Regions from separate parts of the Homo sapiens genome. Here all the other regions are reported to be linked to region 2. Evidence: microRNA targets listed by miRTarBase, many of them from high-throughput screens and not tested one by one. Region 2 holds a microRNA gene; each other region holds the end of a gene's coding sequence.

What was found. The annotated mature microRNA hsa-miR-3922-3p reads UCUGGCCUUGACUUGACUCUUU and lies in region 2 at 1,699-1,720, shown strand. An mRNA with a match to its seed (bases 2 to 7 or 8) in the 3' UTR can be bound and repressed. Matches are read on the target gene's strand: a 7mer-m8 pairs with bases 2 to 8, a 7mer-A1 pairs with bases 2 to 7 and ends in A, and an 8mer does both.
Region 1: the mRNA of SLC38A5 is a reported target of hsa-miR-3922-3p. Seed matches in the 3' UTR shown: 7mer-m8 at 3,482-3,488.
Region 3: miRTarBase lists RAB30 as a target of hsa-miR-3922-3p. Seed matches in the 3' UTR shown: 7mer-m8 at 3,657-3,663, 7mer-A1 at 1,524-1,530, 8mer at 1,158-1,165 and 7mer-A1 at 446-452.

The regions. Positions count from the first base shown.
Region 1 is chrX:48,455,174-48,459,416 of GRCh38, forward strand. It overlaps SLC38A5 (solute carrier family 38 member 5), which reads right to left. Exons shown (of 17, transcript NM_033518.4): 17 at 3,371-3,861. The coding sequence ends at 3,760. Among named protein-coding and RNA genes, the nearest start is that of SLC38A5, 13 kb to the right of the region's middle.
Region 2 is chr12:104,589,996-104,594,238 of GRCh38, forward strand. MIR3922 (microRNA 3922) reads left to right here and starts at 1,638; the gene lies at 1,638-1,721. All of the region lies in intron 1 of CHST11 (carbohydrate sulfotransferase 11), which reads left to right.
Region 3 is chr11:82,978,344-82,982,586 of GRCh38, forward strand. It overlaps RAB30 (RAB30, member RAS oncogene family), which reads right to left. Exons shown (of 5, transcript NM_001286060.2): 5 at 1-4,072. The coding sequence ends at 3,822. Among named protein-coding and RNA genes, the nearest start is that of SNORA70E, 61 kb to the right of the region's middle.

The DNA.
Region 1 (4,243 bases), not on the chromosome of region 2:
GCAGCCTTGAACTCCTTAGTTCAAGCAATTCTCCCACCCCAGCCTCCCTGAGTAGCTGAGACTGCAGGTGCACACCACCATGCCCAGCTAATTAAAAAAAAAACTTAGGGACAGGATCTCATTATGTTGCCCAGGTTGGTCTCAAATTCCTGGCCTCAAGTCATCCTCTTGCCTTGGCCTCCCAAAGTGCTGGGATTACAAGCATGAGTCATCGTGCCCAGCCAAGACTTGCAGTTTGAAGGCCAGGTGCTGGAATTTCAGGCTACCGTTATTCTCAAAAAGAATGGCTTGTTGAGCTTAAGTTTAGTGGCAGTAAGGGATAAAGAACAGTGAAACAAGGAGCATATAGTATTAATCAACTACAGACAACTGCCCTATTTGTAAATAGAAGCAGGGAAATAATATATATGTGTAGTAGCTTATAAATGCGTAAAAATTATCTGGGAGGATAAGCAAATGTCTCTCAAACATCTAAAAGCTTCCTTCAGGCTGGGTGCGGTGCTTCATGCCTATAATCTCAGCAATTTGGGAGGCCGAGATGGGTGGATCACTTGAGCCCAGGAATTCGAGACCAGCTTGGGCAACATGGTGAGACCCCGTCTCTACAAAAAAATACAAAAAAGGCCGGGCGCAGTGGCTCACACCTGTAATCCTAGCACTTTGGGAGGCTGAGGCAGGCGGATCACGAGGTCGGGAGGTGGATCACGAGGTCGGGAGATCGAGACCATCCTGACTAACATGGTGAAACCCCGTTTCTACTAAAAATACAAAAAATTAGCCAGGTGTGGTGGCACACATCTGTAGTCCCAGCTACTCGGGAGGCTGAGGCAAGAGAATCACTTGAACCCGGGGAACAGAGGTTGCACTGATCCGAGATCGTGCCATTGCACTCCAGCCTGGGAGACAAGAGCAAGACTTCATCTAAAAAATAAAATAAAATAAAATAAAATAAAATAAAATAAGCCGGGTGTGGTGGCATATGCCTGTGGTCCCAGCTACTTGGGAGGCTGAGGTAAGAGAATCACTTGAACCCGGGAAGTTGAGGTTGCAGTGAGCTGTGATCTCACTACTGTACTCCAGGCTGGATGACAGTGAAACCCTGCCAAAAAAAAAAAAAAAAAACCTTATTTCATAAATACGGCTCATGCCTGTAATCCGAGCACTTTGGGAGGCCAAGGTGGGAGGATCACTTGAGCCCAAGAGTTTGAGACCAGCCTAGGCAACATAGAGAGATCTCATTTCTACTGAAAATTTTAAAAATTATCCAGGCATAGTGGCGCATGCCTGTAGTCCCAGCTACTCAGAAGGCTGAGGCAGGAGGATAGCTTGAGCCTGGGAGGCTAAAGCTTCAGTGAGCCGTGATGGCACCACTGCACTCCAGCCTGGATGACAGAGCAAGACCCTGTCTCAAAAACAGTTAAAAATTAAAAATTAAAGAATTAGAAATACACACACACACACACACACACACACACACACACGTATGTGAAGTGTAATGGCAATACCATTTTTTCTATGAGGTTGACAAAAATCTGTTGCATTGCTCAGGCTGTTGACAAGGCTGTGGTGAAAATGGCACTCACATACTCATGCTAGCTTCTCCTTGCTCTTGCTTGGACCAGCCATGCTCGTTCCTACCTCGGGGCCCTTGCACCTGTTGCTCCCTCTGCCTGGAACACCCTTTGCCAAAATAACCATGAGGCTTGCTCCTTTCAGCCAACCTAGGACCAAATTCATTGCCCCCTCCTTAGTGAAGTCTCGCTGAATGCCTCCTCACCCACCACCTCCCCACACCACTCTCACATCGCTCATTTTCTTCATTGCACCATCTTTATGAGGAATGATTTCTCTTTTATTCTCTTTGTTAGGTCAGAGGTCAGCTAACATTTTCTGAAAAGGGCCAGAGAGTTAATAGCTCAGGCTTTGCAGGCCATATGGTCTCTGTTGCAAATCCTCAGCTCTGCACGAGAAAGCCACAAACAATATGTAAATGAAGAAGACACTGTAAATGATATGTAAATAATTTAGACACTGAAATTGATATGTAAATGATTTAGACACTGAAATTTGAATTTCACATAATTTCCAAGTGTCACAGAATATTATTTCTTTTAATAATATTTTTTCATTTTCTTTTCTTTTTTTTGAGACAGAGGCTGGAGTGCAGTGGTGAGATCTTGGCTCACTGCAACCTCTGACTCCCAAGTTCAAGCGATTCTCCTGCCTCAGCCTCCTGAGTAGCTGGGATTACAGGCGCGTGCCACCATGCCTGGCTGATTTTTGTATTTTTAGTAGAAACGGGGTTTCACCACGTTGGCCAGGCTGGTCTAGAACTCCTTACCTCAGGTGATCTGCCCGCGTCGGCCTCCCAAAGTGCTAGGATTACAGGCATGAGCCACCACACCCAGCCCCTTTTCTTTTTGAGACAGGGTCTCACTCTGTCACTCAGGCTAGAGTGCAGTGGCGTGATCATAGCTCACTGCACCCTCAATCTCCCGGGCTGAAGCGATCCTCCCACCTCAGTCTCCCAAGTAGCTGGGACTATAGGCTTGCACTATCACACCCGGCTATTTCTTTTAATATTTTTTGTAGAGATGGGGTCTTGCCGTGTTGCCCAGGCTGCTCTCAAATGATCCTCCTGCCTCAGACTCCCAAAGTGCTGGTGATTACAGGCATAAGCCACCATGCTGGATCCACCTTTTTTCAATCATTTAGAAATATGAAAGCCAGTCTTAGTTCAAGGGCCATACCAAAATAGGCAGCAGGATGGATTTGCCCACTCGTGTGTCAGAACATCAACTCCAGGGCACTATTGTCTGCTTGGTTCACTGCTATATCCCCAGCACCTAGAATAGTGCCTGGCACCCAGTAGGCTTTCAGGAGATGTTTACCGAGTGAATGAGTGAAGTCTTTTTCTGTGTGTGAGATGGAGTCTCACTCTGTCGCCCAGGCTGGAGTACAGTGGCACAATCTCGGCTCACTGCAACCTCCGCCTCCTGGGTTCAAGCGATTCTCCCGCCTTAGCCTCCCAAGTAGCTGGGACTATAGCGTGCACCACCACACCCAGTTAATTTTAGTATTTTTTAGTAGAGACGGGGTTTTGCCATGGTGGCCAGGCTGGTCTCAAACTTGTGATTTCAAGTGATCCGCCGGCCTCAACCTCCCAAAGTGCTGGGATTACAGGCGTGAGTCACTGCTCCTGGCCAAGTGGGTGAAATATTAAGTTGAGTAGCAAGTTACTGAAAGAGTGAAGTGAATGAATGCATGATCAGGCACAGTCCCACTCGCAGGGCTTCAGTTTGCTCCAGCCTGGACTCCGGCAGGCTCCCCCAGCAAGACTAAGAGAAAGATCAGAAGGCTGAGTCCAGAGTGGTAGCTCAACATCTTTATTTTTCCTCTTTAGCCCGAGGGTAATCCTGACAAACAGCTTCAGCCAGGAGGAGGCAGAGAGGACTGGGCTGGGCAAAGGCTCCACCAGGACCTGGCCTCCTCCTCCTCCTCCTCCTCCTCCTCCTCCTCCTCTTCTTCCTCCTCCTCCTCCTCCCATGGGGTTGGGGTTGGGATTAGGGCCATGATCCAAGCTTGGCATCCCTGGGGAGGAGGGAAGTGGGCCAGTCTGCAGCCTCTGCTGTCCCCCGCCTCTGACAACCACGTTCATGGGAACCAGCCACCTCCACATGTTGGGCAGGAGGGACCCTAGGGAGCGGCCCTGACCCCTCCATGTGCATGCGCACAGGGACCTGGGCCAGCAGGGCCTGATCAGTGTCCAGACATGCGGCTCTGGCCTGTGGCCCAGTTGGCAAACATAAAGCCTAGACTGACGGCCATGAAGAGGACTCCCAGGACTCCAAAGCACAGGGCCTGTGGGCCAGAGAGACAAGATGGGGCTGGTTGGGACTCCTCACCCAGTTGCCTTCTGAGAATGTTCCTCAAGTCTTCCACCTCCTTCAGAGAGTGCTCCATCCATTCCTGACCCTCCTCTGTATGCCCTCTCCTTCCTTACAGCCAGCCCCTTTCTGCGAGTCCTTCCACCTTCCCAGGACCCATGACAGAATACGTTCCTCCATCCTCCTTCTTCAAAGTGCTTCCAGCTCTCTTCCCAATAGTGCTCTTTCCATCTGTCTGGAGAATGCTCCCTCTATGCCAGCCTCTGTTTGAGTGCTCCCTGTCTTCCTGGACCCTGCTGGTGCTCTGTCTCCTCTGCCCCTTCCTAGACAATCACCTTCATTCTTCCAGACCATTC
Region 2 (4,243 bases):
GAGACTCTGTCTCAAAATTAAATAAATAAATAAATAAATAAATGAAGATGCCTCACCCTAGCTGGCCCGTCCCTTGGCTATTAGGTGCCGCATGACCCTTGTAAGTACCTACACCCAGGCCCCTGGCCTCGTTGGCCCCATCTGGCACAGTTTCTCCCCCTCCTCTTCTCCAGATGGCCTGCACGTGCGCTGTCTATGTGCGCACCTGTTCCTCATGTCTAGCTGATCCAGCATCCCCAGACTCTTCCAAGATACAAATCCCCTGGGGTGCTCATCAAGCTTGAAGCTTCCCAGGCCCCTTTGTAGGAGAATCTGATTCAGAAGGGCTGGGAATATATGTTTTTTAAATAAGTACCTCGGATGACTCTTATCAGGAAAGTTTAGAAGACCTTGGACTGGGGTGACTGTATTTCAAAACGGTTTAGTTTCCTGTCTTTTGGGAAAGGCACTTCCATTCATTCATTTATTCATTCAGCCCTGAATTTAGGCCCCTTTTAGGAACCGAGGATATTGTGATAGACAAGACAGTCCAAGTCCTTTTGCTCATGAAACTTAGGGTCTCGTGGTGGCAACAGACAACAGCCAATAAAGCATTTAAGATAAAAAGACAGGAGAGAATCAATGCCTTGAAGAAGCATATGGCAGGCGGGGCGCAGTGGCTCATGCCTGTAATCCCAGCACTTTGGGAGACTGAGGCGGGCAGATCACTTGAAGCCAGGAGTTCAAGACCAGCCTGGCCAACATGGTGAAACCCTGTGTACTTAAAAATGCCAAAAATTAGCTGGACATGGTGGCACACGCCTGTAATCCCAGCTACTTGGGAGGCTGAGGCACAAGAATTGCTCGAACATGGGAGGTGGGGGTTGCAGTGAGCCAATATCGCACCACTTTACTCCAGCCTGGGTGAGAGAACGAGACCCTGTCTTAAAAAAAAAAAAGAATATAGCAAAGAATGGGAGGAACAGGAGAGAGAGGAAGTGAGGCCATGGGAGACAGTGTGTCCAGGGAAGCTCTCTCTGGGGACCTGATGATGCGGTCAGAGGGCAGAGTAAAGAAGAGAACAGTTGTTGGTGTTGGGAGAGGGACTCCAGGCTGACAGAGCAGTGAGTGCAAAGGCCCTGAGGCTCATGCTTGGTTTTTTGGAGAAAGAGCAAGATGACCAGTATGGTGGAGGAGGGGCAGAGGCAGGCGGGGCTATATCATGGGGGGCCTCTGGGCCGTGGAAAGACTTTGGATTTTGTTCTAAGATGGTGGCAGGTCTTTGGAGCAGGAAGGCTGTTATGATCTGATTTACGTTTCTAGAAGATTATTCTGGCCGCTGGTAGAGAATAGAGTAGGGAGGCCAGGGTGGCAGCAGGGATACCAGTTAAGAGGTTTTTGTCATAGCCCAAGGGGAAGGCGATGATGGCTTGTACCAGGGCGGTGAGGACAGAGACATGCTGATGGGTGGGGCATAGCAGACAGAAAAGGGAATTTAAGAAAATTCCTCACTGTTTGGTCACAGCTAGGGGCATGATGGTGGCATCCACTGTGATGGTGAACATTGTGGGAGGGAAATTTTAGCTGTGGAAGCCATGAGTTCTCTTTATCAATGTTTAACATATTCCATTCATAAGCACCCTCAAATTGAACTTAAAGGAAGAGTCAAGTCAAGGCCAGAGGTCCCACAGCAGGGCTGGAAAGCACACCTGTGGGACTTCTGGCCTTGACTTGACTCTTTCCAGATATCTGAGTCAGACGTTTTCAAAGCATGCACCATGACCCACGGGTGTGTTGTAAAATGGATTTAATGAGTTGTGACTAGTAGTTCATAAAAGAACAATAGAAAATGTTAGTTTGTCACACATAGTAAGGATAGTACTTTTAAAATAAAACTTGTCTCGGTTTTCTATATATATTTGTATGTAAATCACATGCAAAAAGAGAAAGGGATGAGGCCAGGAATCAGGAGATCTTCATTTTAGCTGCAACTCGGCCTATAGCCAGCAGTGTGTCCTTGGACAGATCACCTTCTATCCTGCACGTCCATTTCTTTACCTGCAAAATGGGGTTAGGGATGAGGTGGTTTAATCTTTTAATACCTGGCACCTCCTCCCCTCCCCTCCCCTCTTCTCCCCTCCTCTCCCCTCCCATCTCCTCTCCTCCCTTCCCCTTCTCTCCCTTACTCTCCCTTTCTCTCTTCTCCCTTCCCGTCTCTCATGCTCTCAGTGGGTGGGCAGCATACCCCACTGGCCAGGAGGATTATGTTTGAGGTTTGTGTCTTAATCTGTTCAGGGTGCTACAACAAAATACCATAAACTGGGTGGCTTATACACAACAGAAATTTATTCCTCACAGTTCTGGAGGCTGGGAAGTCCAAGACCAAAGCATTGGCAGATTTGGTGTCTGGTGAGGCCCTGCTTTCTGGTTCATAGACAGTCCCTTCTTGCTATGTCCTCACATGGTGGAGGGGGTAAGTGGTCTTTTTTGGGACGTCTTTTATAAGGGCACTAATTCCATTTAAGAGGGCTCTACCCCCATGACCAAATCACCTTCCAAAGTCCCCACCCTCTAAAATGATTATCTTGGGGGTTAATATTTTAACATGAATTTTAGTGGGGACACAAACATCCAGATTATAGCACTTTGCGTCCTGCCATTTCTCTTGCTCAGTCAGAATCAGTTTTGAGGATACTTTCCCTAACCACGTAGATTCATTCTCTTTCCTTCTGTGAAAGTCATTGGACTAGGTGGTCTCTAAAGGGCCCTTTTTGTCTTAGATGTGCCTGATGGTGCACTAACCTGTCAGGTTGACAACTGATTTGTACTTGGACAGGGATCTTATACTTTCGGAAGTAGGCATGCTGTCTGGGCATGTTTCTGCAGATGGGCCAGAATTCTCTAAAAGAGGGAATGGGTTGGCTGCTGGGGCCATTGGTTTGGGGGACTCCATTTGGTGACCCAGTTCTTCTCCTGGCCGGTAAATATTTTAATGTATACACTATATTCTTCAAAGCTGAGTATTAGAGTCCCCACTGGAAGGCTTCCATGTCAGTAAATCTCACGGCTCTTGGATGAAGCTGCATCTTTTCCCAAGCTATACCAAGCACATTCACGTAATTCTTAGATTTACTCCCTTGACCTTCATATGCCAAGTTTAATTCACTTTAGTTCTACAACCACCTTCTACAGGCTGGGCGTCGGGAGGGGCTCTTGCTTTGAGGAGCTGGAGTAGGAGAGGCCAACACGGGAATGGCTATGATATAGGTTCAGATTATTCTCAAATCAAATCAACCCCAAATCCCTCAGTATTCTTCAGTGAATTTGCTTATAGGGTCTCCAGTAAGGAGAGAGAGATTTGGGAATGGTTTTAATGGCTCTGAATTGTCCCTGTGGGAGGGACTGGGTGAGGGAAGGAATGGGAAGTTGGAAAACTTAAGTTTGATAATGGCATGAATGACAGGTTAGGCTGAACCCTATTTTCACCTCACTGTTTCGAGGCTCCTGAAAAGTCAGTTGTGAATACAAGCGTGCTGAATGTTTTGTAAAGCTCCTGAAGGCCTGATTGGTGGGAGGATATCGGGTCAACATTTGGGACTGCCTATTTGCTTGGTCTCTATCAGTCCCAAACATCTGTAAGCTGTGACATGTCCCATTTCCCAGGAGTGGGGGAAAGCATGCTGGTTTGTGGGTTTGAATCCCAACTCTGACATTCACTAGCTATGTCGCTGGGTCAGTCCTTAACTTCTTTGAGCCTCAGCTTCCTTGTCTGTAAAATGGGTGTGATACGACCTACCTCCTGGCTGGTGGTAAGTAATAGAGAGAGACAGTAATGAAGGCTCATGTTTACTGGGTCTTGGAGAGTTCATTTAAGGCACATCACAGCACCACGACAGCATATCATATTAATTTTTCTTTTTGATTTAACTACTTTGGCTAAGGTAATTAAACCACTTTGAGGAAGCATTGGCACTTTGAGAAGAATTTTTCAGGAGAGAACATGCTAACTCCTCTTCTTTGTTCATTTGCTATTAGTAAGTCATTTGGTCTGATACCCTTTAGTAGAATATCTTTGGTTAAGTCCTCAGATCACTTGATCTGTTGTTTTTATTCATTTGACACAAACATACCGAGTACCTGCTATGCACGGAGCACTTAGGCAGTGGACAGGTAGAGAGGGGCAAACCTGGCAGGTGAGGGGCTTGGCCAGGCCCAGGTGTGATCTCCAGCCCTGCTTTGGGACCTCTGGCCATTCTGTCCCCAC
Region 3 (4,243 bases), not on the chromosome of region 2:
ATTAGATTTTTGCCCTAAATGACAGGTAATAAATCTAAACTTAGGAACATTTCCTCACAGTTCAAAAAGTTCTGCCCACCTTGATTAACTTGTTTTCTGAATACCTTTAGTTGCTGGCTTAGTGGAGAAGGCCATTGGTTTGATATGCAAAAAAAAAAAAAAAGATTTTTTTCTGATTGTGCTATTTCATTCATGTGGCTTGGCTTAAAAGAAGATGTTTCACTTTAGTAGGAAGACCAATTCAAACATCATTTACAACTGACGTTTATTCAGTATGAGTCATGAACTGAAACTTGGTGTGGGATCTGGTGGAATTATGGGCTAGCTTAAAGGGTAATGTGGCAAATCATTGGCCTAATTCTGTGGGAATCACCAGTGTCCTCCCAAGGCATATATTCATGAATGAAAGAAGATAAGAACCCAGTCCTTTGCTAAATCTGGCGTCTCTGGCCAAATCTAAACGGCTTAAATAATCCTCATCCAAATATCTTATTTTGGCCAATCGTTTCTACCTTCCTTATAAACTCTAAATCAGAACTTGACACATTGTCAAATCAACCCATTTAACTTTCATTTTTAGTTTTCTTGCCACTTTACTCAGGGAGAGATAAAAACGTGAAATGATTAAAAGACCGAGAAAAAGAAAGGCCAGGAAGAACCCATGGCCTAATCTAAGTAATCCATCAAAAAAGATAATTGGCCCTGTAAATTCAAAAAATATTAATATAATTCAACAGATTTAATAAAAGCACACAAAGGGAGAAAAAGCCTTCTATGGGCAAAGAAGCACAAAATCCTTTGAGGATGTAGTCTATACAAAGCCATAAGAAAATATCATTATCAGCAAACTATTATTTCATAGATTTTCCCAAGCCTGACTCCATGACATGAGTATCATGCATTTTCACTGGAAACTGAAAAAAGTTTTGCCATATATTTAATAACTTTATTGAATGAAGAAAAAGATCACACCAAAAATGGAGGAATACATCAACCCTGGTGGTCTTAGTAGACCGAGCCAAATTAAACTATATGATAAAGCAATTTCTCTTTTTTCATCCACCACTAAATGAGAGTTCATTTTTATCTAAAGAAGGCTCATCTTAGCAAATATTGCCATGACAATAAGACTGTTAGGCAAACCAATAAATTTAGGTTCTGGCCTGGGTTAAGATGACTGTATTTAGTGTCCTTTCTCAAGTTCTACTTGAAGGAATTTCTGTTTAATCAAAAAAAGCTCCCCCAACCACTACCACCCCACCTTGGCACTTAAATGTTTATTTGACTAATATTTATTGCACCTACAATATTGTCAGGGATTGTTTTCAAACTTCAGATATATTAGTAGACAAGTATCCATAAGGCCTAATCTGGAATTCATACAACTAAGAAAAAAAGAAACAAAGTCCCACATTCTCATGTGTTCCTGCTGATGGGCTGTGGATGGGTAAGTTATGGAAAGGCTGGGAGGAGCAACAAGGAAGATAGAGGCCAAGACCAGAGCTTTTTAATCCCCTTCTGAGTCTGGCCAAGGGTATATAGAGAAGGCTAAACCCTAGGGAATAATACAAGTGTGACCCTAAAAGGTATTATTTTGCAACTAAATCAGTCCAATCTAACACAGCCATTTCCTCTAAGTTCACAAAGCAACTTTATTTTCAACACACTTGCAACTGTGAGACAAAGTTGGGTCATCATGTGCTGGGGACACTGGATTTTTGCCCTAAATGACAGGTAATAAATCTAAACTTAGGAACATTTTCTTACAGTTTAAAAAAAATTCTTCTGCCCTCCTTGATTAACTTGTTTTCTGAATACATTTAGTTGCTGGCTTAGTGGAGAGGATGGGGAGGGAAAGGCAACAATTATTATAAATTATTTTGGTTTTTATTAAAATGACTTTTCTTTCCTGCAGAGACAGATTCTAAAAGAAAAACAAGTCAAACTTCTGGGATGCCTTTCTCTTTCCCACAGGATCAGGAAAAACACAGTGAGGCCAACCAAAAGTATCAGCCCCTTAAAAAATATGCATAATCTCATGTGCAAGACACTGGTCAATCTAGAACCTGCTAGAGAAATGCCAGAAATGCTTTATCCACATCATGTCTCTACATGACTAATTTCTTTACAATTAAATAGCTTTCAAACATCAACATATCAGAACTGAGATTGTCACCATCTACAGCAACAGTGGAATTACACATCATATCCTTATTCCATTACTCATCCCTCAGTTATGCTAAGCAGCAAGCTACAGAAACATCTGACAGCATCAACAGCATACAGGTTTAATTATTTTCCCAATTTGCATTTATATCAGTGAACAAATTGGAAGCTATCAAAGTATGGCACTGAAGAAAAAGAAACACATATTCAGCAGCACATCTCCCATTTTGAGTCCTGTTTTTAAATTGGCTAAGTAAAGGCATATACACCTCCATTTGAATTGGAGATTTGCAGTAACACAGGCATATAAGGATGGGAGGGAAGGAGGGAGGGAGGGAGGGAAGAAGAAAAGGAGAGACCAGAAAAATAGAGAGGAAAAGAGAAAGAAAAAAGAAAGAACATATGGTTAAGCGTCTGAAGGTAACATTATTACAAGAAGGAGGGGATAAATGACAGTTCAATCTGCTTCCACGAGCAGAATTTTTCTAAGGTTATCATCGAAGATATAAAAATGGGTCGTGAGACTTTTCATCTGTTGCTATTCTCACTTATCATACTAAAAAATCTACAAAATCCTAAGCCTTGGTCTGTCCAAGATGGAGAGTACCAGGAAGTAAAAGATGTGACCTACTATCAAGGACTGTGCTCTGCTAGGAGCCCTGCACTACAGTCCATTAATCCACAGTATTTTGGTCATATCTGGTCTGTTTCCTCATACTACTCAAAATGTGTTAGAGCTAAGTTTTTATATTAGAATGTCATCAACCATTTGTTTATTTTTTTCATTTTGCAAACGTTTTCATTTACATAAAGGGCTGGAGAGACAAGAAAGTGGTAGAGATTCAGAGGGGAACATAAAAGGAAAAGTATTCTCTTTTCCCAAAAATCCACCTTTAAAAAGGTAGTAATGAGACTTTGAGAAAGAGTGCTGATTCATGGACTTCCCCCATTTTTTTATTTCTATATAACACATTTAAGGACATTAATGTACTAAAACGTTTGGTCTGTGAAATAGCGGAATCATTAGCACCAAAAGGAGTTATGGAGCTTGTATATATTATTAAAACAATGATTGTTACTGTTGGTCATGGGTAAAGGTTTCATTTCATTTTTACATCCCAAAGTTCTTGAAAGTGCCTGTGGACAAGAGAAATAACACTTTTCAAAATCTCCATGGGGTCGTCAATACGCACCACAGAGACTGTACTTGGCCTTCCCAGTTTTGGTTTATCTGGTAGACAAGAAAACCAGGGCCCCCAGATGATTACCACCGAAGCCCTAAAGAAGAGTTCCCACATGCACCCACTGATGTGCAGGAGGGATCCCTACAGTACATTTCCCCCCGGACTCTGTTTAGGAATGCGCTTTTACTTGCTTTTTAAAAAAACAAAAGCAACATGCTCTGCAGATCATGGAGTGCCTAGTGCAATTTTCTCCTTGCTCCAACTCCAGACTGGAAAAGGGTGAAACCATTATATGTTCTGCTAATGCTGGCCTGTGGTCGAGGCCCTTGGCCTGCCATGCTTTGTAAGCTCAGGAGCCCACAGGAGTCAGAAGGTCAGAGAGCGGGAGCCACAGTCATCGCCAGATCTCCCCAGCATCTCATGGCCCATCAGGGCAGTTGCTGATTCCTTTTCTTCTCCGTGCCTCAGCCTTTAGTTGAAATTACAACAAGTCAAATAGCTGATGCTTTTCCCTTCTCCAGGTAAGGGTGAGGATACATTGTTCACAAGTGTGTTCTGTCTGGCTTCACTGATGAGTCGGCATGCTAAGTCAAGGAAGAGTTTCTCCACATTATCAGATTCCTTGGCTGAGGTCTCCAGATAATACATGTCCTGAGCTTCTGAGAATTCTTCAGCTCGCTGCTGGGAAACCTCTCTCCTTTCAGCCAGGTCAATCTTGTTGCCTATAACAGTAGTAAAATCAAATAAAGAATCAGCATTTGACTTTTTGCAGGCTGAGAAGCATCAAAATTCAACTCCATATCTGAAGTCAAGCCAGACAGATGGGCGAGTAAAACAAAACAAATGTGACTGTGATTACTGAAATGTTTACTTTAAAATATGAGTGCCAGCTG